Regions from separate parts of the Homo sapiens genome. Here regions 2, 3 and 4 are each linked to region 1. Evidence: fine-mapped expression QTL. A gene starts in region 1. Each other region holds a variant in brackets. All regions are shown on one strand. Distances are from middle to middle.

Evidence for each region. PIP is the estimated chance that this variant, and not a neighbour inherited with it, causes the effect.
Region 2: its variant is fine-mapped to the expression of SAP25 in whole blood (TOPMed, PIP above 0.99).
Region 3: its variant is fine-mapped to the expression of SAP25 in whole blood (TOPMed, PIP 0.97).
Region 4: its variant is fine-mapped to the expression of SAP25 in whole blood (TOPMed, PIP above 0.99).

What each region holds. Positions count from the first base shown.
Region 1 is chr7:100,569,029-100,577,128 of GRCh38, forward strand. SAP25 (Sin3A associated protein 25) reads right to left here and starts at 4,872. Exons shown (of 6, transcript NM_001348680.2): 1 at 4,569-4,872; 2 at 4,269-4,372; 3 at 4,078-4,184; 4 at 3,832-3,985; 5 at 3,626-3,723; 6 at 3,200-3,543. The coding sequence starts at 4,714. The coding sequence ends at 3,259. It overlaps LRCH4 (leucine rich repeats and calponin homology domain containing 4), which reads right to left. Exons shown (of 18, transcript NM_002319.5): 12 at 8,058-8,100; 13 at 7,874-7,977; 14 at 7,666-7,749; 15 at 7,210-7,295; 16 at 6,843-6,980; 17 at 6,677-6,754; 18 at 4,983-6,276. The coding sequence ends at 6,079. It also overlaps the pseudogene IRS3P. RefSeq lists enhancers at 120-791, 2,134-2,804, 5,736-6,290, 6,291-6,844 and a silencer at 1,051-1,250.
Region 2 is chr7:100,646,711-100,654,810 of GRCh38, forward strand. ACTL6B (actin like 6B) reads right to left here. Exons shown (of 14, transcript NM_016188.5): 5 at 3,328-3,425; 6 at 2,019-2,113; 7 at 1,846-1,952; 8 at 734-823; 9 at 513-574; 10 at 261-375; 11 at 41-121. Among named protein-coding and RNA genes, the nearest start is that of ACTL6B, 5.7 kb to the right of the region's middle. RefSeq lists enhancers at 2,613-3,159, 3,160-3,704. The variant T/C (reference allele first, on the strand shown) is at 3,453.
Region 3 is chr7:100,549,649-100,557,748 of GRCh38, forward strand. It overlaps AGFG2 (ArfGAP with FG repeats 2), which reads left to right. Exons shown (of 12, transcript NM_006076.5): 3 at 748-863; 4 at 3,699-3,852; 5 at 4,445-4,610; 6 at 5,962-6,087. Among named protein-coding and RNA genes, the nearest start is that of AGFG2, 14 kb to the left of the region's middle. The variant G/A (reference allele first, on the strand shown) is at 3,413.
Region 4 is chr7:100,304,167-100,312,266 of GRCh38, forward strand. It overlaps SPDYE3 (speedy/RINGO cell cycle regulator family member E3), which reads left to right and starts at 3,536. Exons shown (of 11, transcript NM_001004351.5): 1 at 3,536-3,825; 2 at 4,808-5,026; 3 at 6,194-6,412; 4 at 7,584-7,802. The coding sequence starts at 3,720. The variant G/A (reference allele first, on the strand shown) is at 3,669.

The sequences.
Region 1 (8,100 bases):
CCCCATCCCCTTGGAGGGGGTCAGTGGTCCTTGGATCAGAACTGAGTGCAAAAATGTCCAGTCCCCAGCCCAATCGCAATTTTTTCAAGAAGCAAAGGGTACCTCCATGAGGAAGTCCACACGTCCATGGTCAGAGCCTTCAGGTGGTCCCGGGGTAGTATTTTTGGGCAGTGGTGGCAAGGAGGGGCCCAGAGCAATGGGGCAGCCCGAAGGGGTCTTCCTGAGAGATGGCCTCTTCCTCCGAGGTCTCCTTCAGTGGCCACTTGACTGGGTTCCAGCGGGTATGGTCTGTGCACAGGGACTACCCCCTGAGCTTACTTAGCCCAAGTCACCTCCTATCACCCCAAACTTTCAAGAAACTCAATCTCCAGCTCAGAAATAATCCAGCGCAGTGCTCAGTGGCGGTGGCTCCTTTGGTTACTTGGAAGGGCACAAAACCACTCCTGGATGGGAAGGGGGTACACACAGGAAGGACACCTACAGGCCGAGCGGGGCGTGGCAGGAGCCAGCAGGGTGCATGGAGGCCCCGTTCCAAAGCCCTCTAATCGCCAGCGCCACCACCGCTGCCACAAGTCCGATCACTGGCCTCACACCGAGGCTTTCTCGGTTGCCCCGACGACGTGTCCGGACCGCAGTCAGCTGATCGGTAGAGACGCCCCCACGCTCTCTGCCCCTATAAAGGCTCAGTCTTGGGGTCGAGGCCGCCTCTCTTGGACTTCCCTACTCAAACTCCAGTTCCTGGGCGACGTGAGGATTAGTCTCGTGGGGTGGGGGTTCCGGAGCGGTCGGCGGAGGGAGGGAGGTAGTGGGGAGCCCAGGCCAGGGGCAACAGTCACCGGGACACTCGCTGTGCGCAGAGTCCTTGCCCCAAACTTCCAGTCGGGAGCCCGGGAGAGACGCTGGGCATCAAGACGGGTGGCAGCCTGCCCGGCCGCTGCTCCCGGCCCGCCGAGTTCGCCACCTCACCCCCACCCCTGCTGGCCTCTCCCCGTGCTCAAGACACGAGACCCAGCCGTCTCTGCCTCTTCTGCAGCCACTTTATTGCCTTCGCCCCTGAATGAAGCCCGCAGGCGGCGGCCCCGGGGAGAGCCGGGAATGGCCGCCGTGCCCCTCAGCCAGCCGCTGCCCTGGGCCTGCCCTGCCGACGTGCGGTTCTGCGGCCACCTGCGCGCAGACCCGCCGCGTCCCGAGTGTTCCGAGAGCGAGCAGAAGTTTCGCGCGTGCCGAGCGCGGCTCCAGCGCAGCCTGAGCCTGGCGGGTGCGTGCACCACCAGCAAGTGCGCAGATGCGCGCCAGCACCACCTGATCGTCCTCTACACCCGCGACAGCAGCCTGCGCGTGGCGGCGGCAGGCGAGGCGGAGCAGCAGGCGTGATACAACACCCTGCTCGAGGAGCGCGGTGATGCCGGTGAGGCCCGAGCCCCGGGCTTCCGGGGGCCTCGGGGGCTTCTGGCTGTGGTTTCTCCGTGGCTCGCCCCTCCCCCAGGTCGCCGAAAGTTCAAACATTAAAGGGGCAGGTTTAGAGTTCTCCGGGCACAGGCCCGGCCCGGTGGCTCACGCCTATAATCCCATTAGTTTGGGAGGCCAACGCGGGCGTATCACCTGAGGTCAGGAGTTCGAGACCAGCCTGGCCAACATGGTGAAACCCCATCTCTACTAAAAATACAAAAATTAGCCGGGCGTGGTGGCACATGCCTGTAATCCCAGCTACTCAGGAGACTGAGGCAGGAGAATCGCTTGAACCGGGGAAGCGGAGGTTGCAGTGAGCCAAGATCAACCACTGCACTCCTAGGTAACAGAGCTAGACTCTGTCTCAAAAAAAAAAAAAAAAAAAAAAAAAAAAAAAAAAAAAAAGAGTTCTCCAGGCACAATGACGAGGCCCAGGTGCTCAGGGACCCTCCTATGAGCACCTTCAGACTCCCTGTTCCCCATCCCTGAGACCCCAGCTTCTGCGGACCAGTCAAGTGGCCTGAGCCGTCCAGGGTGTCTGGGAGAGGGGATCGAGCAAGCAGCCCTTAAGACCTTGGCGAGGCTGGGGACAGCAGCCTTCTACCCTAAGGGGCTGGGTGGGGGCTACATAACCAAGGGAGCAGGGAGTGACTATGAGCCCATTCCTACAAGTCTGGGTTCAGGAGCCTGGACACAGGCCCAGGAGTGCCCATCGCGATGTGGGGGCTGGCTGGGGATGGGTAGGGACTCAGCGCTGCTCCTGCCCCCCTCAGAGCTGGCTAGGGAGTGAAGTGTGCACCAAGTTATCGGCCCCAGAGAGCCTCGGAACCGGCACCGCCAGGCCAGAGCCCCTGACGAGCTGCCTCAGCTACGTCGATCTGGACCTGGTCCTTTCTCTGGGGGCACTTGGTGACGTCCCCAGGGCCCACACGCTCCGCCCACATAGCTATGCGGTGAGGAGACCTGAGACCCAGGCAGCTCTCTCCTGCTGACTGATGGGGGGGTGGTTGAGGGAGGGACTGGAGGGAATGGCATTGTAACGCCCCCGCCCTGCCTCCTAACTCCCCACCGTGTGAGGGGCTTTAAGGCCCAGATGCCACCTCGGACAAGTGACCTGCAGGGCAACAAGCTGGGGTCCTGCCCCCTGTGTCCCTTCCAGCTGTGGCACCTAAGTCTTGAGTAGAAGGTTCTCCAAGAAGTTGGGCTATTTTATGGGAGAAAATTCTAGAACCTATCCCCGCCCAAACCACCGAGACTACACACTTCTGGGCTTTCTCAGCTGAAACCCTGATCCTGTTTCTCTACAGAGTTCGTGCAAGAATCTCTAGAGTCTCAGGTAGGCTGCGGCAGGGCCACCTTTCTGCCAGTGGTGACATTTACATGGACCGGCACCCTCCCCCACACACCTGCAGTGCATTCTTTGTGTCTCCTCTGAGCCAGACAACTACCCCACCCAGCCCAGAACTGAACTCCTGGAGCCCCAGCACAAGAGGTGTGGGGCTAGTGTCCCCTAAAAGTGAGGTGCCCCTACTTACTCCCCCGCCTGCTTCCTATACATTCAGCCCTGCACTGCCATGCAGACCACCCACCCACTCATTAAAGGGGCTCTGCCCAGTCAGCCCAGAAATGCCTTAGGTCATGGATACCCTCGCCCTCCGCCTAACACAGCAGGGGGTGATCTGCAGTGAGACAGAAAGAGACCCCATTCCTGCCTCTATGACTTACTCTGCTCCCAGCCACACGGAGCCTGTTTTGCAAACCAACACTGTTTTATTGTCAACACAACCAGCCCACTCTGCCCTGAGAAGGCTATGGACAATGGGTGTCTGGGGTCTGTGGGAGAGAGAGGTCAGCACCCTGAGAACTGCTGGGGCTACCACAGGGGCTGGGTGGGTCAGAGGTATGGTCTGGGGGGCCAACCGCGGAGGAGCTGGGCCTAGGCTCCCCCTGGCTCATCTGCAGCAGGCCAGTGAGAGCGATCAGCTCCGGCCCGCTGAGCCAGGCAGTGGAGGGGCCCCGGGAGGGTGATGGGCGGGGGAGCACCCTGGCAGACATGATGGGGGGCGGCGGCAGCAGTTTCAGGGAGCCCATCATCTGAGGAGAGAGAATGGAATGTGTTTCCTGCCAGGCAAGCCTGGAGGCTGGGGTAAGGACAGGGAGGGGAAAGAGCTCTCACCTGCTGGGGGGCCTTGGACAGGTACAGGGGAACACGCTGCCCCCGGGGCAGCAGAGGGTCCGAGAGGAAGACATCTTCACAGCACACCACCGGGAACCCTAGGAGGAAACACCACTAGGGTGGCGGGCTGCGGGCTCCCACCCCTGGGCACTGGTTCCCAGAGGAGTTGGGGCAGCCTTGCGCCCCCGGGGGACCAAGGGAGGTACCTGCATCTGGGGGCGCCTGCTGTCCATTCCAGTGCCCTGTGGCAGGGGCCACGGGCCTGAGACCCCTGCCCGAGGCTGCTTCATACAGCGGCCAGAATGAGGGGTGACACAGCGTCCGGCCTGAGAACGAGGCTCCTGAGCTACAGTTGGCCCCCTAGGGTGAGGAGGACAGAGCACTGGAGCCTCAGGCCACCGCACAGCTCCCTGAGCACCCCAGCCAGTCCCACAGGTTTGCCCCCAACTCACCCACACCGGCCGAGGTCCTGCTTTGGCTTCATACTTGGGGTCCCAGGGCGCTAGTGGAGTCATCCTCGAGGGGGCCACCTCCCAGGCCACCTGGGGGGAACGGGGATCTGGGGGGACGCTTGGGGATTATAACAGGCTCACAGTCAGTGAGAGGCTCTTAGGGGTAGTAGAGGCAGCAGGGCCTGTCCTACCTGGGGCTCCGGGGGGCTGCTCAGTGGCCGGGCCTGGCAGGTGGTGGGGCAGCAGCAGCTGCTCTCTCCAGATCCAGGAAGGGCTACGGGATGGGGGCTGTGGGCTGGAGGGGCAGGGACTGAGGCTGCAGCCACACCGCCCCCACGCACCCTCCCCTGGAGCCCAAGGGTGCCTGGTGCAAGGGAGACCGAGGGACCCAATCTCCAGCAGGGACAATGGAGAAGCCTCCGTAGAGCGCGTGGTGAAGGCATGGAGGCCCCCAGTCGCTGTCCCCCCACGGCTCCGTCCGAGCCCCTCACCTGTCCCATGGGGGTGTCCCCAGCTCCCTGGGGGCGTCCGCTCCGGCGCTCCAGGGCTCGCCCTGGTCCTTGCCCGCCGGAAGGCCTGGTCCCTCGGGCGCCTCCTCCGGGCCCGCGCCCCACCGCGGCGGCGACCAGGGCAACATTCCGCGTTCCCGAGCGCAGGACGGTACCGCCGTGTCCCCGCCGCCCGGCCCGGCCCTCTCAGCCTCCCTCCGCGGCGCGGCGCGAACGTGCCCTCCTGGCGAACCCACCCCAGAGGCCTCGCGGCGACGCTGGCGCCCTGTGCGTCTCCCGGCCACGTGGCGCGTGCCCCCGCCGGGCTCCCGCGGGCGCCCCCTGGCGACTGGGCGGTGAATTCCGGAAACAGAGGCCCCCCCAACAACCCCGCGACGCACGTGCTCTCAGACACAGTTACACCTGAGGGCCACCCAGAGGGCTTCTGGCTTCTGTTTATTGCGGCTGACACGACACCTGCGACACCCGCGGTCCTTCCACCCAGACCCTCGACCCCAGAGGCAGCCAGGCCGGCAGGCCAAGGGTGCCCAGGCCCAGGCCACCCTCACCACGTGCTTCTCTGAGAGCGCGGAGCCCAGGCGCGTCTTCTGCTCCCGGGGTCCCGGGCGGGGTGGGCCCTGTGCCCCCACCTTCACCCCTAAGGCCGGTCCAGCAGGGCGTGGACGACAGCAGCGATGTAGGGGAGGCCCCTTCCCGGGGCCCCCTCCTCTTCCAGGATGTGGTGGGGCTGGCACAGTGACTCCTGGGGGAAGGGGCCGGGTTAGCTTCCCCACGGTGCCCCCTGCGGCTTCCGGCCTGTGGCAGGGGGTCGGGGGCAGACCCGAGCATCACCGTGCGCTCGGGGCTCGGCGACAAATGAGACGCAAGAAAGCTGTCAGCGATAACAGAAGGGAGGTGACACGGGGGGTTGGCGGACGCTCCGGGAGCATGAGAGGCCGGCATCTCAGGAGGGAGATGCTGGTGGGCACAGAGCCATGGCCACAGCCACCAACACGCGGAGCAGACGCGCGCGCGCGCGCACACACACACACACAGGCAGGGCGGCCACGGTCTGTACAGTTTATACACAGAGATAGGGACCCGGCCTGGGCCCCGAACCCCTACAAATATAGATCCTCTCTACAAAATAGAGATAATTTAGCCCCCCCATAGCAGCTGTTGGGGGGGGAAGGGGAGGGCACAGGAGGAAGGGGGAGACTCCAGCTCCTGCCACCCCTCACGGGGTACAGAGGGCAGGGGCAGGGCCGGCGGGGACATGAAGGCACCGTCAGCACTGAGAGGTGGGGACTCGTGGGGCTACTGGAGGGAGGCCAGAGGCTGGGGGCCCAGGGTCTGGGGGCACCAGAGTGGGGCCTCTGAGGTCAGTGTCTGTGAAGGGGGTGCACTAGTGTCTTTGGTTGGGGCTGAAGGCACCGCAGGTGGGGTCGGGTGGAGCAGGGACCTTATAAATAGAGAGGAAGGGAAAGGGGTGAGGGAGGGCCGATTTTGGGGCCTAGGAACCCAGGAGCCGAGTGTAGGTGACATAGAGCAGCAGCATGAGGACCACGTAGAAGACGACGAAGCCGCCCAGACCAGAGGGGGGCCAGAGGGGCGGTAGGGCCTTGCCCCCCACCCGCTTCACGGCCTCCAGCGCGGTCCGCAGCCCCCGGGCAGTGCCCTGGAGGAGATCCGAGGGCGAGCACAGGTCAGCCTGGGGGAGAGGAGAGCAGGTGGACAAGGACAAGGGACAGACGTCAGCAGCAGCAGCAGGACAGTCCCTCCCACCCCTGCCCTCACGTGCTGGGGCCAGAACCACGCCCACATGCTGACGTGCTGGGCAGGGGGAGTGCAGTGCAGGAGGAGTGCAGGGCAGGGCATGTGCAGGACAGGTGACATGCAGGACAAGATGGGGCCTGCAGGGCAGGGGATGTGTAGGACAGGTGACATGCAGGGCAGGGGGCATGCAGGGCAGGGGGCATGCTGGGCAGGGCAGGGGCAGCCTGTGCCTTCATCTGAGAGCAGACATCCGCTGCAAATGGAAGCCCACCATCCATGCCACATGCTCGGCTGAGTCCGGCATGCCACCACTCTTTAGAAAGCAGCCCCCATACCTCAGGCACCCCCATTTTTCGACAGGCTTCTAGAAAACTCTCCACATTCTTCCGAGCCTTGAGGGCACTGAGTTTTGGCTGGGGTGGGTGAAAGAAGAAAATGTGGTAAGGGAGAGGCCACAGGCGCCCCGGCCCATCCCCCACCTCTTCCCCAGCCCCAACTGACCACAGCAGGGGAGGGCACATGGATGAAGGGCACGGAGCGCGGCCGTAGCTGGTTGGCCAGCTGGCACAGGATGACCCCACTGGCCAGAGCCTCGGCCAGGTCCTCAGGCAGGGGCCGCTGCAGCCGGGACTCAAGGACCTGGCAGTGTAGACCACATAGAGCAGGGGTCAGGGAAGGAGAGGCGTCTGGGAGGCAGGGAGAGTGGGGGGCTCAGGGCTAGCAGGGAACTTGTGCCTGTCCCTTCCTGTCCTCAGGGGAGGTGCCAGAGTGGGCACAGAGGATGTGGAGGGAGGCTGGTCCCAAGGACAGCAACACAAGGAGGTGCCCGGCCCAGGCCCCTGCCCACGCAGCTCCCGCCTCTGCTCACCTGGCGCAGCTGAGTCATTAAGTCCTTCTCATCTGGAACCTGGGGGTACCGCCGAGGTCTCAGGACAGAGTCTGGTGAGGAAGGGCCTAGGAGAAAAAGGGGGGCATGGGGCTGCCTCCACTGCTCACCACTGACTCTGTAGCTGGGTCCCAGTGGCCTGGCACCTACACCTCCTGCCTCTCTGCTTGTGGGATTTTTTTTTATTTCATGGAGATGGGGTCTCGCTATGTTGCCCAGGCTGGTCTTGAATTCCTGGGCTCAAGCGATCCTCCCACCTGGGCCTCCTAAAGTGCTGCGATTACAGGTGTGAGCCACCACACCCGGCTTGCTTGTGGGATTTTCAACGCAAAGGTACAAAAGGTACAACAGACCCAGAGGGCTCCCAGGGCAGAAGGGTGATGTAGCCGTTGGTGCTGGCAAGCACTGGGTCAGCACTGGGGAGGGCAGGACACCCACCTGAGCCACTCTGAGAGGAGGAACGGAAGAGGAAGCTGTTTGGTCTCTGAATGGAGCCAAGTGGCCGTGGAGCAGGTGCTGTCGCTGGGGCCGGAACCAGGGACACAGCGACAGGGGCAGGTGAGACAGGCATCCCCTCTGTGTCCCTCTCTCCCAACCAGCCCTCACCAACACAGGCCCCATCCTCCTCCCAAAATCCCTGTCCCACCTGGTCCAGCTATGGGAAGGGGCTCTTGGGAGGCAGGGGCAGGGGCGGGGGCTCCCTGCCCCGCTGCAGCCCCTGCTTGGGAGGCACTGGACTTAGGCGAGCCGCTGAGGAGAGACAGAAGGGAATTAGAGGGATGATGGTCATAGGAAGAGGAGTGGGGAGGGGATGCTGGCAGGAAACCTACTTGTGCATGGCTTGAGTGGACACGGCGGCGGCCCCTCCCACAA
Region 2 (8,100 bases), 78 kb after region 1:
TGGGCCCCTTTGCCGAGCCTCAGCTCCGGCCTGGCCTCACCGGGCGAATATCAATGTCACACATGCCGATGCTGGTGGTCACCACGTGGCCCACACCCAACATGGTGTTCCCCGACAGGCCCTGCAGAGAGAGGTGACTGGGGCTGTGGGCTCTCTCCCCCTTCCCCCCAGACCCCTGCAATCCTTCCCAGCCTCCCCCACGCCCCAGGATCCAGGGACTGCAGCCAGCACCCACCCCAGTCCTCGCCACACAGCCAAACCTTGACGTTCGAGGGATCAAACAGGCCCTCAGGGATGCGGAGTCGCTCGGCGCCGTAGTCTGTATTGTAGCCATTGGGCATCTCGTAGTGCACTGTGGGCATTTGTGCAGCCACCCTACCCAGAAGGGAGCAGGACTCTGCCTGGGGTGCTCAAGAAGGATCAGTGCGTGGGCAGCACCAGAGCCCCCCAGCCCACCCCAAGAGTGCCGGTTCTGCCCTCTCTCCCACCCCAAAGCCCTGAGCCACACTCACTGTTCATCGTAGGGGGAGTCTGAGACCTGCAGCACGGAGGCCTGGAAGTCCTGGATCACCTCCTGAAATCCCAGCGGAGGTGGTGAGGGCCTGCCTTCCCCGTGAGCAGCACCCCCTGCCCCGCTCCCCCTCCCTGCTCCCCCTCCCATGCGGGGCCTCTGTCCCGCCCCCGATTCATGGCAGGGGAGGGGGGTTTCAGGTGGCCCTCTCCAGAGGCTCACATTACACATGTAGTTATGCCAGGACTTGGAGACCTGGGGTAGCTTCTCCTTCTTCTTCCAGTTTGGGGGGGCACCCTCCCGGACAGGCTCCTGTGGGGGCACAGTGTAGGAACACCCTTTCCTAGCCCACCTGACCCCCACCCCCACCTTCCTGGCACTGTTCCCAGCTCTGCAGCTACCTGGCGCTGCAGGCTCTGCTGTGCTGCCTGCAAGAGGGGTTTCTCACCCTTCCCTGATGGAGAGGAGAGAGAATGGGGCATGCCTCTCTCTCCATGTGTGCCTTTCATGCGGTGGGTGCAGCTGATCTGGAGAACACCAGGAATACAGCAGTGACAGAACCTCAAGGGAATGGCCTCCTAGGGGGTCATGATCCATGTGAGGGCACGGAATGGAGCTAAGCACACAGTGTCACTTCATACTCACAGCACCCTGGCTACTGCCTACTGCCGTTCCACTTTACATAAGACAAACCTGAGGCCCAGGGAGCTTTGATATCATGCTGTTGGTCACACAGCTCTTTTTTTTTTTTTTTTTCAGATGGAGTCTCACTCGGTCGCCCAGGCTGGAGTGCAGTGGCGCGATCTCGGCTCACTGCAACCTCTGCCTCCGGGGTTCAGGTGATTCTCCAGTCTCAGCCTCCCAAGTAGCTGGGACTACAGGCATGCACCACCATGCTTGGCTAGTTCTTGCAGTTTTAGTAGAGACGTGGCTTCACCATGTTGCCCAGGCTGGTCTCGAAGTGAGCTCAAAGCGATCTGCCTGCCTCAGCCTCCCGAAGTGCTGGGATTACAGGTGTGAGCCACCATGCCTGACCGGTCCTGCAGCTCTTGCACGGCAGAGGCAGAACTTGAACCTGGGTCTATATTGGACCCTAGAACCCACCACACTGGCCCTCACACATCCTGCTGTCTGCCAGCTGGTTTCATGACCTCAGCATATCCCTCAGCCTGTCTGGATTTCGGATGCCTCGATTATAAAAGGAGGAACTGGAGCCAGGACCCACTGGGGAGCCTGCTGCTCTCTGCTCTGATATCTCATGTGTCAGAGGGTTGACGGCCATGGGGCGAGTGGCCAGGACTCTAGTGGCAGCTCCATGTCCCCAGAGGCCCCACCTTGGCTGCGATCATGTAAGGTGGGATGATGTCAATGGCCATCTCCTGGAACAGCTCCCGGCACTGCATGGAGATGAAGTCCCCTGCCAGAGGGGACTTGACGATGCCTAGAAGGAAGGCACTGTCAGGACCTGGTCCTCCTGGAGCACCCCCACCCCCTGCCGAAGCCCCACCTTGCTGCAGAACGTAGCCGTCATGTACTGGAATGGCCGTGGTGTGGGTGGCTCCACTGTCCAGCACGAGGCCAGTGGACCGCCCGTTTGCAAAGCTGGCATCGGATGGGTAAGTCAAAGAGACAGCAGCAGCAAGTGAGGGGCCTGGGCCCAGATCTTGTCTGGTCACTCTCTGCTCTACCGGGGTCCAGCCCATCCCCAGTCTGCAAATCTCTCCCCCTGGTGATGACTCATCTCCTGGAGAAAGGCTCTGAGACCCCAGTTACTTCTTTTTTTTTTTTTTTGAGATGGAGTCTTGCTGTCTCCCAGGCTGGAGTGCAGTGGCGCAATCTCAGCTCACTGCAAGCTCCGCCTCCCGGGTTCATGCCATTCTCCTGCCTCAGCCTCCCGAGTAGCTGGGACTACAGGTGCCTGCCACCACGCCCGGCCAATTTTTCGTATTTTTAGTAGAGATGGGATTTCACCGTGTTAGCCAGGATGGTCTCGATCTCCTGACCTCGTGATCTGCCCGCCTCGGCCTCCCAAAGTGCCGGGATTACAGGCATGAGCCACCACACCCGGCGACCCCAGTTACTTCTTTAGTTATTTTTTTTTTTTTGAAACTGAGTTTCGTTTTGTCGCCCAGGCTGGAATGCAATAGCTCACTGCAACCTCTGCCTCCTGGGTTCAAGAGATTCTCCTGCCTCAGCCTCCCAAGTAGCTGGGACTACAGGTGCCCACCACTATGCCTGGCTAATTTTTCCATTTTTAGTAGACACGGGCTTTTGCCATGTTGGCCGGACTGGTCTCTAACTCCTGACCTCAAGTGATCTGCCCGCCTTGGCCTCCCAAAATGCTGGGATTACAGGCGTGAGCCACCGCGCCTGGCCAGCCCCTTTATTTTTGGTTGTGTCCTACAGATTCCCTGAAATTAGGGTCGCTATCACCCCAGTGCATAGCACAGGGTTCAATGCAAGGCAGATCCTAAAAACAGTCAGTGTTGAAGGAGTTCTTGGGAAGGGACTGCCGCAGTGTTCTACACGTCTCCCTCCTCTGTCCAGTTCCAGCCCCTACTCTCTCCCGGGCCCAGCTCACTGTCTGCTCAGCCTGATCCGGGGAACCGAAAGGGGCCGCTGATCTGGCCACCCCAGAGTCGGAGGTGCTCAGTCCACTGGGCCTTCTGCACTAGTGGGGCAGAGGGAGGTGTCTGCCCATTGGGACACTGATCTTCAGAGAACCAGGCCTGACCCTCCAGCTCATCACAGCTGAGCTCAGCACAGGCCCCACCCCAGCCCTCCACCCAGTCAGAGCAGCTCAGTCCAGAGGATACGCGGTGAGCACAGCCGTCTTGCATAAGAAGAAGGCAGGAATGTTGTACTGCTCGAACATCAGCTCTGTCAGCTTCTCCCGCTTGGCCCGTGTGTTCCACTGTGGAGAAAGTGCAGAGGGGGAGGA[T/C]TCAGGAAGGGAGAGGCACAGACCCACATCCACGCACACGCAACCCACTCACTCACACATACACTCACGGTCACACACACACATCCAAACACTTGCACACACATACACAACCTAAACACTCACACATACACTCACGGTCATACACACATGCATTCACTTGCACACACACACACATACACTCAAACACACACACATACACTCACATTCACAGACACACATAAACACACACATGCATTCACACTATACATACACTCACGGTCACACATGCAAACACACTCACAAACACACGGTCAAACACATATATACTCACATTCACACACAAACTCACACACACACATACACATATATTCACACTCACAGTCACACACACATGCATTTAAAACATTTGCACAGGCCAGACAGGGTGGCTTACGCCTATAATCCCAGCACTTTGGGAGGCCGAGGCAGGAGGATTGCTTGAACCCAGGAGTTCGAAACTAGCCTGGACAACATAGTGAGATGCTGTCTCATTAAAAAAAAAATTTAAAGTAAGGAGCTTGTGGGAATTAAAACTACATGAACAGAAATGAAAAACTCAATAGAAGGATTGGAACATAAAGTGGAGGGAATATCTTGGAAACCAAAGGAAAAAGGTAAAGAGATGGAAAATATAAGAGAAAAGGGAATTAAATTAGGGGACCAATTCAGGGGGCAACAAAATCCAATAACAGAAAATCCCAAGAGAGAAAATGGAGAGAAATAAATAATTAAATAAATAATTCTTTTTCACTGAATTGAAAGACATATGTTTTCAGAATGAAGAGACATACTAAGTGCCTAGAGCCATGAATGAAAATACACCACACTGAGGATAAAGTAAAAATTCTATAAACTTTCAGAAAGAAAAACATTACATCAGAGGATCAGAAATCAGATGGTTTCATCCTTCTAAATGGCAACGATATATGCTGGAAGAAGGACAATGGAAAAGTGCCTTCAAGATTCTGAAGAATAATGATTTCTAACCTGGCATGGGATACCTAGCTAAGCTATCAACTCAAGGTGAGACACACAAAAGTCTCAAAAAATATACTTCCCATGACCTTATTTTAAATTTTTTTTTTAGATGCTGGGCGCGGTGGCTCATGCCTGTAATCCCAGCGCTTTGGGAGGCCAAGGCGGGCAGATCACCTGAGGTCAGGAGTTTGAGACCAGCCTGGCCAACATGGTGAAACCCCGTCTCTACTAAAAATACAAAAATTAGCCAGGTGTGATGGGAGGTGCCTGTAATCCCAGCTACTTGGGATGCTGAGGCAGGAGAATCCTTGAACCCGGGAAGCGGAGGTTGCAGTGAGCCAAGATCACGCCATTGCACTCCAGCCTGGGGGACAAGAGTGACACTTCATCTCAAAAAAAAAAAAAAGTTTTTTTTTAGATTATTATTTAATTAATTATTTTTTTAAATGGAGTCTCACTCTGTCGCCCAGGCTGGAGTTCAGTGGCATGATCTAGGCTGACTGCAATCTCTGCCTCCTGGGTACAAGCAATTCTCTTGCCTCAGCCTTCCGAGTAGCTGGTACTACAAGCATGCACCACCATGGCCAGCTAATTTTTATATTTTTGGTAGAGATAAGGTATCAGTATATTGCCCAGGCTGGTCTCAAACTCCTGGACTCAAGGCCTCCCAAAGTGCTGGGATTACAGGAGTGAGCCACTGTCTCTGGCCTCTCATGACCTTTCTAAGGCAGTTACTGAAGGACCTGCTCCATGAAAACAAAGGAATAAGTCAAGAAAAGGAGTCAAGTACAGGAAACAGGACTTCTAACCAGGACAGAGGCAAAAGGATTCTACAAGATGATGGTGAAGGAAGATGCCAGCATGACAGGTCTGTCCCCTGGCAGAGGGCTACTAGTGCAAACTGGACCAGGTCAGTGGGCTCCTGAAGAAATTTCTTCAAGAAATGAAATTGATGAGAGGCCAGGTGTGGTGGCTCACGCCTGTAATCCCAGCACTTTGGGAGGCCGAGGCCGGCGGATCGCGAGGTCAGGAGATGGAGACCATCCTGGCTAACACGGTGAAACCCCGCCTCTACTAAAAATACAAAAAATTAGCCGGGCGTGGTGGTGGGTGCCTATAGTCCCAGCTACTTGGGAGGCCGAGGCAGGAGAATGGTGTGAGTCCCAGCTACTTGGGAGGCTGAGGCAGGAGAAATGGAGCTTTCAGTGAGCCGAGATCGCACCACTGCACTCCAGCCTGGGCAACAGAGTGAGACTCCATCTCAAAAAAAAAAAAAAAAATACAAAAAATTAGTCGGATGTGGTGGTGGGCACCTGTAGTCCCAGCTACTCGGGAGGCTGAGGCAGGAGAACCCAGGAGGTGGAGCTTGCAGTGAGCCGAGATCGCGCCATGGCACTCCAGCCTGGGCAACAGAGCAAGACTATGTCTCAAAAAAAAAAAAAAAAAGAAATTGATAAAATATCTAATGGAATTGACGTCTTGACAAAAGATACAATTGATGAATGATTTAGGGTTCACACTGTTAAGTAGATAGAAAACCAGACCAAATATAATCAAACACAGGGCTGGGATGGTGGCTTACGCCTGTAATCCCAGCACTTTGGGAGGCCAAGGTCGGTGGATCACGAGGTCAAGAGATCGAGACCATCCCGGCCAACATGGTGAAACCCCGTCTCTACTAAAAATACAAAAATTAGCTGGGCGTGGTGGCACGCACCTGTAGTCCCAGCTACTCAGGAGGCTGAGGCAGGAGAATCACTTGAACCCGGGAGGCGGAGCTTGCAGTGAGCTGAGATCGCACCACTGCACTCCAGCCTGGTGACAGAGCAAAACTCCGTCTCAAAAAAAAAAAAAAAAAAAAAAAAAAAAAAAAAAAAAAAAAAATTGAACACATTTTTTTTCCAGTTCTAGGAAAACAAAAAGTTGCACAAGAAAGGAAAGGTGATCATGGTGTATTGCCTGTCTCAGGCCTGATTAGCATACATAGTAATAGGAGTGTAAATATTGGGCTGAGCACAGTGACTCATGCCTGTAATCCCAGCACTTTGTTAGCTGAAGTAGAAGGATCGCTTAAGCACAGGAGTTTGAAGCCAGCCTGGGCAATATGATGAGACCCCATCTCTGCAAAAGATTCTCTTAAAATTATTTCTAATTTAAAAAGAATGTAAATACTGAATACTGATTTCTTTTAAAGTCTAAAATACAACTGGGCTGGGTGTGGTGGATCTCGCCTGTAATCCCAGCCTTTTGGGAGGCCGAGGCGGGCAGATTGCTTGAGCCCAGGAATTCAAGACCAGCCTGGACAACATGATGAAACCCTGTCTCTAAAAAAAATTTAAAAATCAGCTGGGCATGGTGGCTTATGCCTGTAGTTCCAGCTACTCTGGAGACTGAAATGAGAGGATCACTTGAGCCCAGGAGACCAAGGCTGAAGAATTGTGCCACTGCAATCCAACCTGGGTGACAAACTGAGCAGACCCCCTGTTTTTGAGGCAAAGTCTCAAAAACAAACAACAAACAAAACCCCAAACAACAACAACAACAACAACAAAACCCACTGTACTTAAAGGAGGGTGATAAGAAATACGTGTGGCATAGGCTGGGGAGGAAAAGAGAGCTAAGCGATCATTTTCTAAAGTGGAAAATTCAGCGATAATACCTAAAACTAAACACTCCACAGGCAGCAATTTAAGTGTAGTATTAGAGATATGGAAGAAAATACCCCCAACATTAGCTAAAAAGGAGAAAAACAGTTGCTTTTATAAAGAGGAATTTATAAGGAGGTGGGTAAGAACATTTTTTTAAATGAGGTTTTAAATTTTTTTTTTTTTTGAGACAGAGTCTCGCTCTGTTGCCCAGGCTGGAGTGCAGTGGTGCGATCTCAGCTCACTGCAAGCTCCGCCTCCCGGGTTCACGCCATTCTCCTGCCTCAGCCTCCCGAGTAGCTGGGACTACAGGTGCCCGCCACCATGCCTGGCTAATTTTTTGTATTTTTAGTAGAGATGGGGTTTCACCGTGTTATCCAGGATGGTCTTGATCTCTTGACCTCGTGATCCACCCGCCTCGGCCTCCCAAAGTGCTGGGATTACAGGCGTGAGCCACCACACCCGGCAAAAAATTTTTAATTTTTATTGTTTTAATAAAAGAGACGGGTCTTGCCATATTGCCTAGGGTGGTCTCAAACTCCTGGGCTCAAGTGATCCTCCTGCCTTGGCTTCCCAAAGTGTTGGGATTACAGGTGTGAGCCAACATCCCCAGCTCACCAAAGTTGACCATAATAATAATAATAATAATAATAATAATAATAATAATAAGTGAAAAGGTCAAAAAAGGACTTGGAGGCTGGGCGTGGTGCCTCATGCCTGTAATCCCAACACTTTGGGAGGCCAAGGCGGGTGGATCACCTGAGGTCAGGAGTTCGAGACCAGCCTGGCCAACAAGGCGAAACCCCCTGTCTACTAAAAATACAAAAAATTAGCCAGGCGTGGTGGCGGGTGCCTGTAATCCCAGATACTCAGGAGGCTGAGGCAGGAGATTCCTTTGATGTCGGGAGGCAGAGGCTGAGATCTCACCATTGCACTCCAGCCTGGGTGACGGAGTGAGACTGTGTCAAAAAAAAAAAATTTAAAAAGGACTTGGAGACAGAGAAGGG
Region 3 (8,100 bases), 19 kb before region 1:
TAGCACTGTGTCCATGCTCAATATTTGTTTATTTATTTATTTATTTATTTATTTATCAGAGACAAGCTCTTGCTTGCTCTGTCACCCAGGCTGGAGCTTAATGGTGCAATCTTGGCTCACTGCAACCTCAACCTCCTGGGCTCAAACGATCCTCCCACCTCAGCCTCCCAAGTAGCTCGAACTATAGGCACATGCCACCATGCTCCACTAATTTTTGTATTTTTTTAGAGAGTGGGTTTCGCTGTGTTGCCCAGACTGCTCTTGAACTCCCGTACTCAAGTGATCCACCCACCTCGGCCTTTCAAAGTGCTGAGATTACAGGTGTGAGCCACCACATCCAGCCAATATGTATTTACTGATGAATAAATAGGAAGTGGTGGCTGGGCGCGGTGGCTCATGCCTGTAATCCCAGCAGTTTGGGTAGCTGAGGTGGGCAGATAACGAGGTCAAGAGATCGAGGCCATCCTGGCCAACATGGTGAAACCTCATCTCTATTAAAAGTACAAAAATTAGCTGGGCGTGGTGGCGCATGCCTATAGTCTCAGCTACTTGGGAGACTGAGGCAGGAGAATTGCTTGAACCCCGGAGGTGGAGGTTGCAGTGAGCTGAGATCGTGCCACTGCACTCCAGCCCGGCGACAGAGCGAGACTCCGTCTCAAAAAAAAAAAAAAAAAAAAAAAAAGGAAGTGGTATTTTTTGTATTTCCTGCTTTCTGCTCCCACTCCTCTGACACCTTCATTCTTTTAGGTTTGCCGGAAGATTTGGTTGGGTCTGTTTGATGCTCGGACATCTTTAGTACCAGATTCCAGGGATCCTCAGAAAGTGAAGGAGTTTCTCCAGGAAAAATATGAGAAGAAGAGATGGTAAGGAGTAGGAAAGAGGTTGCTATGGAAACGTGTTCAAGACATTCTTCATCTGACAGTCCAGTTTCTAGAGTTGAATTTGGCCTTCTCACAAAAGACTAGACTTGGGTCGATTCTGTTCCACTCACATTCAGTTACGGCTAAAATAAATCTACATGAAAGGACAACTTGTTCTCAGTCACTAACCCTGCAGATTTTATGTCCTCTCTTTTGGAGAGATAGTAGACTGATTGGAGTCGGGAGGTAGGCCTGTGGGTGTTCATTTTTATAGCTCAGCTGATCTTATGTATGGGGAGAGATGGCTGGAAGCACACATCCTATAGTTTTATTCCTTTAACCCATCATTTTATGATTTTTTTTTTTTTTTGAGACAAGGTCTCACTCTGTTGCCCAGGCTAGAGTGCAGTGCCACAGTCACAGCTTACTGCAGTCTCAGCTTCTTGGAGCTCAGGTGATCCTCCTACCTCATCCTCCCCAGTAACTGGGACTACAGGTGTGTGCCACCATGCCTGGCTAATTTATATATATATATATATATATATATATATATATATATTTCTTTTTTTTTTTTTTTTTGAGACAGAGTCTCGCTCTGTCACCCAGGCTGGAGTGCAGTGGCGTGATCTCGGCTCACTCCAAGTTCCACCTCCCAGGTTCACGCCATTCTCCTGTCTCAGCCTCCCGAGTAGGTGGGACTACAGGCGCCCGCCACCACACCCAGCTAATTTTTTGTATTTTTAGTAGAGACGGAGTTTCACCGTGTTAGCCAGGATGGTCTCGATCTCCTGACCTCGTGATCCGCCCACCTTGGCTCCCAAAGTGCTGGGATTACAGGCGTGAGCCACTGCGCCCGGCCTTAATTTTTATATTTTTTGTAGAAATGAGGTTTCACCACGTTGCCCAGGCTGGTCTGAAACTCCTGGGCTCAAATGATCTGCCTGCCTTGGCCTCGCAAAGTGCTGGGATTACAGGCGTGAGCCACCGTGCCCGGCCTTGTTTCATGATTTATATGTACAGTCAGCCCTCTGTATCTGTAGATTCTGCAACCATGGATCCAATCAACCTCACATCAAAAATATTTGGGAAAATAGGCCAGGCAAGGTGGCTCACGCCTATAATCCCAGCACTTTGGGAGGCTGAGGTGGGCAGACCACTTGAGGTCAGGAGTTCGAGACTAGCCTGGCCAACATGGTGAAACCCCGTCCCTACTAAAAATACAAAAAAAATTAGCTGGGTGTGGGGGTGGACACTTGTAATCCCAGCTACTCTGGAGGCTGAGGCAGGAAAATTGCTTGAACCCAGGAGGCGGAGGTTGCAGTGAGCTGAGATCATGCCACTGTACTCCAGCCTGGGCAAAGAGAGAGAGACTGTCTCAAAAAAAAAAAAAAAAAAAAAAAAAAGTAGGGAACACAAAAAATAACAATACAACAATAAAAAATAATACAAATAAGGCCAGGTGTGGTGGCTCATGCCTGTAATCCCAGCACTTTGGGAGACCGAGGCGGGTGGATCACAGGGTCAGGACTAGTTCAAGACTAGCCTGGCCAAGATGGTGAAACCCCGTCTCTACTAAAAATACAAAAAATTAGCCAGGCATGGTCATGGGCACCTGTAATCCGAGCTACTCAGGAGGCTGAGGCAGAGAACTGCTTGAACCCGGGAGGCAGTGGTTGCAGTCAGCTGAGATCGTGCCACTGTACTCTAGCCTGGGTGACAGAGTGAAACTCCGTCTCAAAAAAAAAATAATAATACAAATAAAAAGCAATACAATATAGCAACTATTGCATGGCATTTACATTGTATTAGGTATTATAAGTAACCTAGAGATGATTTAAAGTATATTGGAGGATATACATATTTGATGCAAATACTTCACCATATTATATAAGAGACTTGAGTGTCCCGTCCTCTGATTATGGAATTGTCAGGGGGATCCTGGAACCAGTTCCCTGAGGATACCATGGGACAACTATATTTTGTCTTCCTGATGAAGGAAACAGCATCTCCATTCTCCCTTACCTTTCCTCTCCCCTGGTATCACTTCTTGTGGGATCTCTGGGGTGTGTACATGTTGGGAGGTAACTGTGAGGTAGAGAAGAGAATGCAGAGAACAAAGAGATTGATGTGGATAAGACCACACTGTGGAGTCCCTCCTAGGGATGTCCTCAGGATTAAGCTGACACTTACAGAGTAGGGGCCACATACACTGTAGTGGAAGGGAATTGTCCCGGCAGGAGCTGGCAGGATGGAAGTGTGGATTGTGAGCACCTAGAGGATGAGGCGGCAGGCAGCTTTTCTATGGAGCTGAGAAGAAGGAGTCTGAAGAAACACCCAGGAAATAAAAGAGGGGGACCTTTGCCAGGTGTGGTGGCTCATGCCTGTAATCCCAGAACTTTGGAGGCTAAGGCAGGAGGATCACCTGAGGCCAAGAGGTTGAGACCACCCTGGGCAACATAGTGAGACCTCTTCTCTACAAATAATTAAAAAATTAGCCAGGCATGGTAGCATGTACTTGTTTGTGGTCCCAGCTACTTGGGAGGCTGAGGCAG[G/A]AGAATCACTTGAGCCTAGGTAGTTAAGGCTGTGTTGAGCCAACATTGCCCCACTGCACTCCACCCTGGGCAACAGCGAGACCCTGTCTCAAAAAAACCAAAAGATGTTCAAGGGGATGCTCAAGATAGGCAGAACTTTGCTAAGTTGCTCGGTTCCCTTCAAAAAAGGGAATCAGTAGAGAAAAATGAGCATAGATTTTGACTCCTGTGTCTTCCCAAACATCTCAGCTGAGCGTGGTCCAAAGTTTTATCCCTCTCTTTACAGCCTAACTATTCTTTCTCAAAGGTATGTCCCCCCAGACCAAGTCAAGGGGCCCACTTATACCAAAGGCAGTGCCTCCACCCCTGTGCAGGGCTCCATCCCAGAAGGGAAGCCCCTTCGGACACTTCTGGGTGATCCTGCACCGTCTCTCTCAGTTGCTGCCTCCACCTCGAGCCAGGTAACTCTCAGATCTGCTCGTCATGTTTCTTTTGAGATTTGGGAGACAGGAGTGTCAGTTTCCTGAATCAGATTCCCCGGACTTAGCAGACAACAGTGCAGGAGCTGTGAGTTGGGTCTCGGCTCTGCTGTTAACCTGTATCTTGTATTTGTCACTTCTGGACCTCATATCTTTTGGAAGTCAGAACCTAACAGGAAGTGGTATTTAGGAAAGTCAGAATATCAGCTCCAAACCTGAGCATTCCATCAAAGAAACACAGAAGGGGCTGGAATATGGTGTCCAATACCTGGGAAGGTTGAGGAGTAACAGCCCTGGGGGCAGTATTGGGCAGTATTCCTGTATATCTCAGGGTTACCTTGGCTCATGTGCTGTAAAATGTGTGGTTCTTGGAGCAGGTGTACTGAGAAGATGAGGATGATATGAGCTCTGAGAGGGGCTAAGGCAGCTCCTGCCCAGGAATCTTCTAGGTTGAGGGCAGTTACTCACTGTCTTCTCTCTCTACCTGCCTATCTGAGGGCAACCTGGGGAGCCAGAGGAGGGCCTGGGGCATGTCTGGGATTCTAAGGGCTGTATGCATTCCTTCTCCTCCAAGCCCGTCAGTCAGTCTCACGCTCGGACATCCCAGGCCCGGAGCACTCAGCCACCTCCCCACTCCTCTGTCAAAAAAGCCAGTACTGACCTGCTGGCTGACATCGGTGGAGACCCCTTTGCTGCACCCCAGATGGCACCAGCTTTTGCTGCATTCCCTGCCTTTGGGGGTAAGTGGGTTTTGGGATGGGACCCTCCCTACAGCGTATATGCTTACAACATGAGAGATCCAGTCCCTGGAGGTAACCATGGCTCTAGATCTTCTCATGCAAACAAATGTGAGGGTCACTCTGAAGCAGTGAGGCTGGGAGGACTGGGGTCAAATAAGTACAGCCAGGATTATGTTTGGGGGTTTGATCCTAAAACATTATAGTTGAGGGCTCCTAGCACTTCCTTTTAGAACACTGGAAATAGCCTTTTTTATTATTTTCTGTCTCTGTTAAAATGGGAGGAGGGGGATTATCATGTGTTCCAGTTCACCAAAGATTATTCTTCCCCCAAATCAGCAATAGCCAGTAGAGGGTTCAGCAGCATAGAATCTGTTTTCCCTTTTTAAAAATTTTCAAGCCAGACACAGTGGCTCACACCTGTAATCCTAGCATTTGAGAGGCTGAGGTGGGCAGATCACCTGAGGTCAGGAGTTCAAGACCAGTCTGGCCAACATGGTGAAACCTCATCTCTACTAAAAAGAAAAAAAAAATTAGCCAAGTGTGGTGGCATGTGCCTGTAGTCCCAGCTACTTGGGAGGCTAAGGCAGGAGAATTGCTTGAACCTAGGAGGTGGAGGTTGCAGTGAATCACAATTGCATCACTGGACTCCAGCCTAGGTGACAGAGTGAGACTCCGTCTCAAAAAAAAAAAAAAAAAAAAAAAAATTCAAGCTCCTTCCTCCATGAAAAAAAATTTTCATGCTCCAAACTAGGCCCTGACAAAAATGTTAATGCCTCATGGAGTAAGGACAGAAGAGGGCAGGGAGTGAACCTGGAGGCCCTGGGTGCCCCTGTTCCCCTGTGTGGGTCTGGCTCTTGGCCCCAGGCCCCACCCATTTCCCTCTGAAGAGAACCCTGTGGAAAGGCAGATGTCCCATAAGAGTGGCCTTTGGCCTTTAGAATTAGTAGCTATATTACATGGATAGGCATATACATTTTCTTTTCTTTTTCTGTTGTGTGTGTGTGGTTTTTTTTTTTTTTTTTTTTTTTTTTTTGAGTCAGAGTCTCATTCTGTCACCCAGGCTAGAGTAGAGTGGCACAATCTCGGCTCACTGCTAGCTCCACCTCCCAGGTTTAAGCAATTCTCATGCCTCAGCCTCCAAGGTAGCTGGGATTACAGGCATGTACCACCACGCCCAGCTAATTTTTATATTTTTAGTAGAGACAGATTTCACCATGTTGACCAGGCTGGTCTTGAACTTCTGACCTCAAGTGATCTGCCCACCTCGGCCTCCCAAAGTGCTGGAATTACAGGCGTGAGCTACCACACCCGACAATTTTCTATATAACCTTTATGTTTCTTCCACCTACAGGCCAGACACCTTCCCAAGGAGGCTTTGCCAACTTTGATGCCTTTAGCAGTGGCCCCAGCTCTTCTGTGTTTGGAAGCCTCCCTCCAGCTGGTCAAGCCTCGTTCCAGGCCCAGCCAACTCCTGCAGGTAAACTCTGCCCCACTGGCTTCCTTTCTCTTCCAACCGTGTCCATTTGTTCATGTCTATAAATCACCATTCATATCCTCACTATCCTAAAGAACTGCTCAAAGCAGCAAAGCACAAAGAGAAGCAGCTCCAGGAGAGGATGAGCGTGTCTGACACATTCTTGTCAGGGAGAGGGGGCTCTACTGTTCTGCTTTTTCATGAAAGGAAAATGACTAAGATTGCAGCAGGAGCTGTGTGGGTTATACACTAGGAAACTTTTCACTAGGAAGTATGGAAGACCTGAGTCCTAGAAAAATTGAAAATGGACGTGACTTTTTCTCTAAGGTGCTCTTGTCTGCATAGTACGCTGTCCCAAAGGGTCAAGGGTCAAGGTAGTCTCCAGAAGTCCTCATCCATCCCTCTAAGACCAAAGGCCTGTAAACTCTATGTTGCTGCCAGCCACAATGGCTCACGCCTGCAATCCTAACACTTTGGGAGGCCGAGGTGGGAGGATCGCTTGAGCCCAGGAGTTTGAGGCTGTAGTGAGTGATTATTGTGCCATTGCACTCCAGTCTGGGTGACAGAGTGAGACCCCATCTCAAAACAAACGAACGAACAAACAAAACCAAATAAACTATGTTATTTAGCCATTGCAAGAGACTCTTCAGGCCTTCTTAAAGCATTCTGCTCCTTCCTAAGCTCTACACATTGAGTCTTCATAGCCTTTGGGTGCCTTCTGCCATTGGACATCCTGGACACATGGGAGGGCAGCTGCAGTGCTCGCCGTCAGGCTCAGATGTCTGGGGAAAAGCCAGTGACATACACTCTTTCTTTCTCCCTTCCTCTACCCACCCTTCTCTTCTCCACCCTCACTGCCAGCCAGTCGGATGCTAACTGAAAGTTACAGCTTTGGTAAGTTATTATCCCCACCCCAGAGCCTACCCAAGTGCCTCTGATCATAGAGTTTTGAGGGCTGGAAGGAACCCTTAAAATTTGGCCATTTGACAGATAAGGCAGTTAAGCAATTTCCCTAGTCATGCAGGCCACAGAGCGACCAAGCTGAGACCAGAGCCCAGACTTCTTGACTCATGCTCTGCCCACAGCCTTCTCACTGTGCCACTGTGAGCTGATTAGCTGCTTTTGTTTTTATTTTATCGTTTTGGAGGGCTATAAGAAGAAACATTTTATATTGATAAAAGTTGGCTGGGCGTGGTGGCTCACATCTGTGATGCCAGCACTTTGGGAGGCCCAGGTGGGCAGATCACCTGAGGTCAGGAGTTTGACATAAGCCTGGCCAACATGGTGAAACACCGTCTCTACTCAAAATACAAAAATTAGCTGGGCATGGTGGCAGGCACCTGTAATCCCAGCTACTCAGGGGACTGAGGCAGGAGAATCACTTGAACCTGGGAGACAGAGGCTGCAGCGAGCCGAGATCCTGCCACTGCACTCCAGCCTGAGTGACAGAGTAAGACTCTTGTCTCAAAAAAAAAAAAAAAAGTTAAAATTCACAAAGAGGTTCTCAAAATCATGTACTTAAAATAACTGACCGCATACCCATGAGATTCACGAAGCAAAAACTATTAGACACAATCAGAATTTAATAAGCCAAAGGACTAGGAGACTATAATATGCTTTCCCACATGACTAATAGACAAGTAAGAAATAAACTATAGGAAACAAAATCTCCATAAATTCTAACAAAGACAAATCACATAGGTCACATTTTGGTTTTTGTTGTTGTTTTGTTGTTTGTGTGTTTTTTGAGACAGAGTCTTACTCTGCTGCCCAGGCTGGAGTGCAATGGCGTGATCTCATTCAAGCGATTCTCCTGCCTCAGCCTCCTGAGTAGCAGGATTACAGGCGCATGCCACCATGCCCGGCTAATTTTTGTATTTTTAGTAGAGACGGGGTTTCACCATGTTGGCTAGGCCGGTCTCAATCTCCTGACCTCAAGTGATCCGCCTGCCTTGGCCTCCCAAAGTTCTGGGATTATAGGCATGGGCCACTATGCCTGGCCATAGGTCACATTCT
Region 4 (8,100 bases), 260 kb before region 1:
CCACTGCACCCCAGCCAAGGCAACAGAGACCTTGTCTCTAAAAAACAAAAACAGGCCAGGTGCAGTGTCTTATGCCTGTATTCCCAGCACTTTGACAGGCAGAGGCAGGTGGATCATTTGAAGTCAGGTGTTCAAGATCAGCCTGGCAAACATGACGAAACCCTAAAATACAAAAATTAGCCGGGAGTGGTGGTGGGTGCCTGTAATCTCAGCTACTCGGGAGGCTGAGGCAGGAGAATCACTTGAACCTGGGAGGCAGAGGTTGCAGTGAGCCGAGATGGAGCCACTGCACTGCAGCCTGGGTGACAAGAGCGAAACTCTGTCTCAAAATATTAGGAAAAAAAAAGAGAGAGAGCCTCTTTTCCATCTCCCCGCCACAGAGTTGTCTTCAGTAATTTCATTCCCTTTTTTCCTGAGGATTCACTGGGTTTCTGGGTCCCAGAGGGGAAGTTCTCTTCAAGGTACAGAAACCACGACTCCGCAGAGAACCGCAGAGACGGCGGCATGACCAGACCACGGACAGGTGTGGAGAAGCTGCTGGGCTAAAACTTGGGCTGAACTTCCGCTGCAGGTCGACTTATTCCCATCAGCACCAAAGCCACTGGAGGGGGTCATCCACTAGCAAATGAAGTGGGGGCACGGATTGGAGGCTGTTTCAGAAGGTCCCACTGAGCCACGGACTCAAGGCCTGGCCACAGCCCTCCCAAGCAAGGCCCAGATCATATTTCACCACGCTCAGAAAACCTTGTCAGCTCATTTCAGTCCACGGTGACTTTGCTTTCTTTAGGATCTCTCTTGCACTGTCCAACTCAGAGAATTTCAAATCTGAATGGATTCCAATGATGGAGCTAAATCAGGCCTCACCTCAGTTTTTTAATTACAATCAATAGGGCTGGGTCCCAGCATCTGTGTCTTAATGTTCCTCCATGTGATCCTCATGCTGAAAGGCTGGTATTTGAAAATCCCTTTTTTTGGGGAGTGAAGGGTTTTTTTTAGAGACAGGCCTCACTCTGATGCCCAGCCTGGAATGCAGTGGTAGATCACAGCTCACTGCAGCCTCGAACTCCTGGCCGCAAGAAATCCTCCCACCTTAGCCAACCAAAGTGTTGGGATTGCAGGAGTGACCACTGTGTCCAGCCAGGAAAGCCCTTCTGTTTCACTTGAATGATATTTCTGCCGCAGACCTACAGCCATTGTTGTATTAAACGGCATCATTGCAGGAAAAGAAAAGGTGAGAGGTGACTGTTTTGCTTTTTTCTGAACATATCAGACCAAACCTGGGCTGTCTGGCACTTTTTTTTTTTTTTTGAGTCGGAGTCTCACTCTGTCGCCCAGGCTGGAGTGTAGTGTCGTGATCTCGGCTCACTGGAACCTCCACCATCCCGGTTCAAGTGATTCTCCTGCCTCAGCCCCGCAAGTAGCTGGAATTACAGAAGTGCACTCCCACACCCAGCTCATTGTTTCTGTATTTTTACAGAAAAACAGACAGGTTTCACCATGTTGGCCAGGCTGATCTCAACCTCCTCACCTCTGGTTATCTGTCGGCATCGGCTTCCAAAAGTGCTGGGATTACAAGTGTGAGCCACCGCGCCTGGTTTGCCCATTTTTTGACAATGTATCAACATCATCTAAGATGGGCACTGCCTCAGTGTAGTGTGTCTAGACAAGGTGGCCGGAACAGAGAGGAATATGCATACCAGGCTTAAAGACGGGTTAAATCAGAGCTTTTCATTCCACAAAAGAGCAATTTTAATGAGGTCAGAACATGGATGTTCTAATATTTGAAAGCCTGTTAACTAGGAGAGAGAGAGAGTAAAGTGATTTGTTGTAGGAGGACACACCCAGCTCTGACGGTTTAAAGCGTCATGAATGCAAATTTGAACTCCAGAAAAGCAGAGCTTCCTAACAATGGGACTTCCACAGCAATGGGATTTCCTTCCACATTCAGTTTGTGCCTTTCCCATGAGCGAGAGACTCCTAGGAGAGCCGCAGCCCGTTAGGAAGCCATGTGGGAACTCATCCACAGGTTCTTTTTGTTTGTTTTTTTTTTTTTTTTGAGATGTAGTTTTGCTCTTGTTGCCCAGGCTGGAGTGCAATGGTGCGACCTTGGCTCACTGCAACCTCCGCCTCCCAAGTTTAAGCCATTCTGCTGCCCCCGCCTCCTGAGTGGCTGGGATTACAGGCACCCACCACCATGCCTGACTAATTTTTTGTATTTTTAGAAGAGATGGGGTTTCACCATGTTGGCCAGGCTGCTCTTAAACTCCTGACCTCAAGCGATCCACCTGCTATGGCCTCCCAAAGCGCTGGGATTACAGGCGTGAGCCACTGTGCCTGGCCGGAACCCACAGGTTCTTTGGATGGTCTCTGAATGTCATGAAACTCTTTTATATTTAATTAAAAAAATTTTTTTGACACAAGGTCTTGCTGTGTTGCCCAGACTGGAGTGCGGTGTCACGATCACAGCTCACTGCAGCCCCTAACTCCTAGGCTCAAGCAATCCTCCTGCCACCTCAGTCTCTCAAGTTGTTGGAACACAGGTGCCAGCCACGACACCTGGCTAATTTTGTTCTGTTTTGTTTTGTTTTGTTTGAGATGGGGTCTTGCTATGTTGCCTACACTGGTCTTGAACTGCTGGCCTCAGGCAGTCTTCCTCCCTTGGCCACCCAAAGAGATGGGATTGCAAGCATGAGCCACTGTGCACAGCTGAGATTTTTCGACTTAGTCTTTTTGTACACCCAGTATCTTATAGAATATCCATAATATAGATTCATAAATAAACCATTTCCTTCAATAGTATAAATAAATAAACCACTGCTATAAATGGTGGAATTTCTGAGTTAAGAGCAATACATATGATACAAAACTTGATATATAGAGTTTCTTAGCCAAACTGGAGGGGCTGGCTTTAGGTGATCCGTGGACTCCCTGAAACTGGGGACACCATTGGAAATATGTGTGAGCTCATGGGCAGTTTCCGATGATTTCCAGTCCTCAAAATATCTCTTGGACTCAAAGATGCCTTAGGGCAGAGGACACGTTACACCCAGTACAGAATCTCGGACAGTGAATATCAGTAAACATTCGGCAGAAAAGCTCTGCCAAATTGAGTGCTCTGATGTGACTTTTTCATCAAGTCAATGTTCCTGGGATCTCTTGTACATGATACTCTCACTCTTATAAGGTTTCATCGTTTCTGCTTACCCTAGTTTTCTTTCCCATCCTGATCCCTCTCCCACCAGACTGGACTCTGAAACGGGCATGTACAGAGAAGAGGAGACCCCAACACGCTTCAAGCTTTGAGTGGAGAGGACACAGCCTCTGCTGGGACAGGGAACAGAGGGATGCGGAGACCCTGAAGATGCTTTTGGACAGTGGTCTGAGGTTGGGACAGTGGCAGGAGATACCATTCACCCAGGATCTCCAGGACAAGAGATCAGCCTGGCAGTTACATGTGTTTTTGTTCAAACTGGTTGCCAGGTTGGAATGACCTATGACATCAGAGATTCCGACCTTCCTGATTGGAAGGACCGGACTCTGTCGGCGCCTGGCAGTTCAGGTGAACAACAGTAACTTCTCAGAGCTGTTCTCCACTCCTGACTTCTCCCAGCCTCGAGAATTGATAACACACTCTTCTGGATCCCAGCAGTGTCCAGAAGAAGACCAAG[G/A]ACAGAACAGAGACTAGCTTCGGTGAGATTGGACAGATTTTGGGAAAGATCATGACGAGCCATCAACCGCAGCCCCAGGAAGAGCAGAGCCCCCAGCGGAGCACCTCAGGGTACCCCCTCCAGGAGGTGGTGGATGATGAAGTGTCGGGACCATCAGGTGAGGGGACTGGAGGAAGAAGAGGTGGCATAGGATTGACTAAGACGAAGGAAGGGGGCCAGGTGCGGTAGCTCACCCCTGTAACACCAACACTTTGGGAGGCCGAGGCGGGCAGATCACCTGAGGTCAGCAGTTCAAGACCAGCCTGGCCAACATGGTGAAACCCCATCTCTACTAAAAGTACAAAAATTAGCCAGGCGGTAGTGGTGTGTGCCTATAATCCCAGCTACTCGGGAGGCTGAGACAGGAGAATCGCTTGAGCCTGGGAGGAAGAGGGTGCAGTGAGCCGAGATCGTGCTACTGCACTCCAGTCTGGGTGAGAGAGTGAGACGCTGTCTCAAAAAAAAAAAAAAAAAAAGAAGAAGAAAAAAAAGAAGGGTCAGAGGTCAGGAAGGAGAACCTGGGGAGGGTGTGTGGGAAGAATGGAGAAATTCAGGCTGGGTGCAGTGGCTCACACCTGTAATCCCAGCACTTTGGGAAGCCAAGGCAGGCGGATCACGTGAGGCCAAGAGTTTGAGACCAGCCTGGCCAACATGGCGAAACCCCGTCTCTACTAAAAGTACAAAATTGAGCTGGGCATTATGGCAGGCACCTGTAATCCCAGCTACCTGAGAGGCTGAGGCAGGAGAATAACTGGAATCCGGGAGATGGATGTTGCAGTGAGCTGAGATTGTACCACTACACTCCAGCCTGGGTGACAAAGCAAGATTCTGTCTCGAAACAAAAAAAAAAAAAGAGGGCCTCAGAGAGCCAGGGACCAGGGAACGATATGACGCAGTGTTCTGAGGACAGAGAGAGGGAAGAATGGGGAGGGGAAGGAGTGGCACATGGGGTTGAGCAGAGGAGAAAGTCAGAAAGGTGGCTTGGAGAAGCCAGCAGTCTGAGAGGCTGGGGAGGATGGAGAATGGTTTGGGGTTTGGGGTCGGGGTCTAACGTGATCAGTTGCAGAAGCATTACACGGTGGCCTGGTTTCTTTACTCAGCCCCTGGGGTAGATCCCAGCCCCCCACGTAGGTCCCTTGGCTGCAAAAGGAAGAGGGAGTGTTTGGATGAATCTGATGATGAGCCAGAGAAGGAGCTCGCCCCTGAGCCTGAGGAGACCTGGGTGGCGGAGACGCTGTGTGGCCTCAAGATGAAGGCGAAGCGACGGCGAGTGTCGCTCGTGCTCCCTGAGTACTACGAGGCCTTCAACAGGCTGCTTGGTAGGAGGACACCCCAGAGAGCACCTCCAATCCTGTTCTTTCTAAAAAGAGGAAACTTCCAATAACCACACTTTTCCAATGGGAAAAATATGCCCCAGTGGGTGAGCTCTCCATGCGGGAGGACTCTGAAGTGATCACTCATGAGGGACACTTAGGAGACAACAGAGGATTAGGTAGACTTGATAAAGGTCGGTGCTTGGGATAAGAAAGCTTGGTTTTGGGCCAGGCGCTGTGGCTCCCGCCTGAGATCCCAGCACGTTGGGAGGCTGAGGCAAGAGGATTGCTTGAACTCAGGACTTCGAGGCTGCAGTGAGCTATGACTGCACCACTGCACTCCAGCCTGAGTGACAGAGCAAAACTCTGCGTCAAAAGAAAAACCAAGGCTGGGCACAGTAGCTCATGCCTGTAGTTCCAGCTACTCGGGAGGCTGAGACAGGAGAATCGCTTGAGCCTGGGAGGAAGAGGGTGCAGTGAGCCGAGATCGTGCTACTGCACTCCAGTCTGGGTGAGAGAGTGAGACGCTGTCTCAAAAAAAAAAAAAAAAAAGAAGAAAAAAAAGAAGGGTCAGAGGTCAGGAAGGAGAACCTGGGGAGGGTGTGTGGGAAGAATGGAGAAATTCAGGCTGGGTGCAGTGGCTCACACCTGTAATCCCAGCACTTTGGGAAGCCAAGGCAGGTGGATCACGTGAGGCCAGGAGTTTGAGACCAGCCTGGCCAACATGGTGAAACCCCCGTCTCTACTAAAAGTACAAAATTGAGCTGGGCATTATGGCAGGCACCTGTAATCCCAGCTACCTGAGAGGCTGAGGCAGGAGAATAACTGGAATCCGGGAGATAGATGTTGCAGTCAGCTGAGATTGCACCACTACACTCCAGCCTGGGTGACAAAGCAAGATTCTGTCTCGAAACAGAAAAAAAAAAGAGGGCCTCAGAGAGCCAGGGACCAGGGAACGATATGACGCAGTGTTCTGAGGACAGAGAGAGGGAAGAATGGGGAGGGGAAGGAGTGGCACATGGGGTTGAGCAGAGGAGAAAGTCAGAAAGGTGGCTTGGAGAAGCCAGCAGTCTGAGAGGCTGGGGAGGATGGAGAGTGGTTTGGGGTTTGGGGTCGGGGTCTAACGTGATCAGTTGCAGAAGCATTACACGGTGGCCTGGTTTCTTTACTCAGCCCCTGGGGTAGATCCCAGCCCCCCACGTAGGTCCCTTGGCTGCAAAAGGAAGAGGGAGTGTTTGGATGAATCTGATGATGAGCCAGAGAAGGAGCTCGCCCCTGAGCCTGAGGAGACCTGGGTGGCGGAGACGCTGTGTGGCCTCAAGATGAAGGCGAAGCGACGGCGAGTGTCGCTCGTGCTCCCTGAGTACTACGAGGCCTTCAACAGGCTGCTTGGTAGGAGGACACCCCAGAGAGCACCTCCAATCCTGTTCTTTCTAAAAAGAGGAAACTTCCAATAACCACACTTTTCCAATGGGAAAAATATGCCCCAGTGGGTGAGCTCTCCATGCGGGAGGACTCTGAAGTGATCACTCATGAGGGACACTTAGGAGACAACAGAGGATTAGGTAGACTTGATAAAGGTCGGTGCTTGGGATAAGAAAGCTTGGTTTTGGGCCAGGCGCTGTGGCTCCCGCCTGAGATCCCAGCACGTTGGGAGGCTGAGGCAAGAGGATTGCTTGAACTCAGGACTTTGAGGCTGCAGTGAGCTATGACTGCACCACTGCACTCCAGCCTGGGTGACAGAGCAAAACTCTGCGTCAAAAGAAAAACCAAGGCTGGGCACAGTAGCTCATGCCTGTAGTTCCAGCTACTCGGGAGGCTGAGACAGGAGAATCGCTTGAGCCTGGGAGGAAGAGGGTGCAGTGAGCCGAGATCGTGCTACTGCACTCCAGTCTGGGTGAGAGAGTGAGACGCTGTCTCAAAAAAAAAAAAAAAAAAAGAAGAAGAAAAAAAAGAAGGGTCAGAGGTCAGGAAGGAGAACCTGGGGAGGGTGTGTGGGAAGAATGGAGAAATTCAGGCTGGGTGCAGTGGCTCACACCTGTAATCCCAGCACTTTGGGAAGCCAAGGCAGGCGGATCACGTGAGGCCAGGAGTTTGAGACCAGCCTGGCCAACATGGTGAAACCCCCGTCTCTACTAAAAGTACAAAATTGAGCTGGGCATTATGGCAGGCACCTGTAATCCCAGCTACCTGAGAGGCTGAGGCAGGAGAATAACTGGAATCCGGGAGATAGATGTTGCAGTCAGCTGAGATTGCACCACTACACTCCAGCCTGGGTGACAAAGCAAGATTCTGTCTCGAAACAAAAAAAAAAAAGAGGGCCTCAGAGAGCCAGGGACCAGGGAAGGATATGACGCAGTGTTCTGAGGACAGAGAGAGGGAAGAATGGGGAGGGGAAGGAGTGGCACATGGGGTTGAGCAGAGGAGAAAGTCAGAAAGGTGGCTTGGAGAAGCCAGCAGTCTGAGAGGCTGGGGAGGATGGAGAATGGTTTGGGGTTTGGGGTCGGGGTCTAACGTGATCAGTTGCAGAAGCATTACACGGTGGCCTGGTTTCTTTACTCAGCCCCTGGGGTAGATCCCAGCCCCCCACGTAGGTCCCTTGGCTGCAAAAGGAAGAGGGAGTGTTTGGATGAATCTGATGATGAGCCAGAGAAGGAGCTCGCCCCTGAGCCTGAGGAGACCTGGGTGGCAGAGACGCTGTGTGGCCTCAAGATGAAGGCGAAGCGACGGCGAGTGTCGCTCGTGCTCCCTGAGTACTACGAGGCCTTCAACAGGCTGCTTGGTAGGAGGACACCCCAGAGAGCACCTCCAATCCTGTTCTTTCTAAAAAGAGGAAACTTCCAATAACCACACTTTTCCAATGGGAAAAATATGCCCCAGTGGGTGAGCTCTCCATGCGGGAGGACTCTGAAGTGATCACTCATGAGGGACACTTAGGAGTCAACAGAGGATTAGGTAGACTTGATAAAGGTCGGTGCTTGGGATAAGAAAGCTTGGTTTTGGGCCAGGCGCTGTGGCTCCCGCCTGAGATCCCAGCACGTTGGGAGGCTGAGGCAAGAGGATTGCTTGAACTCAGGACT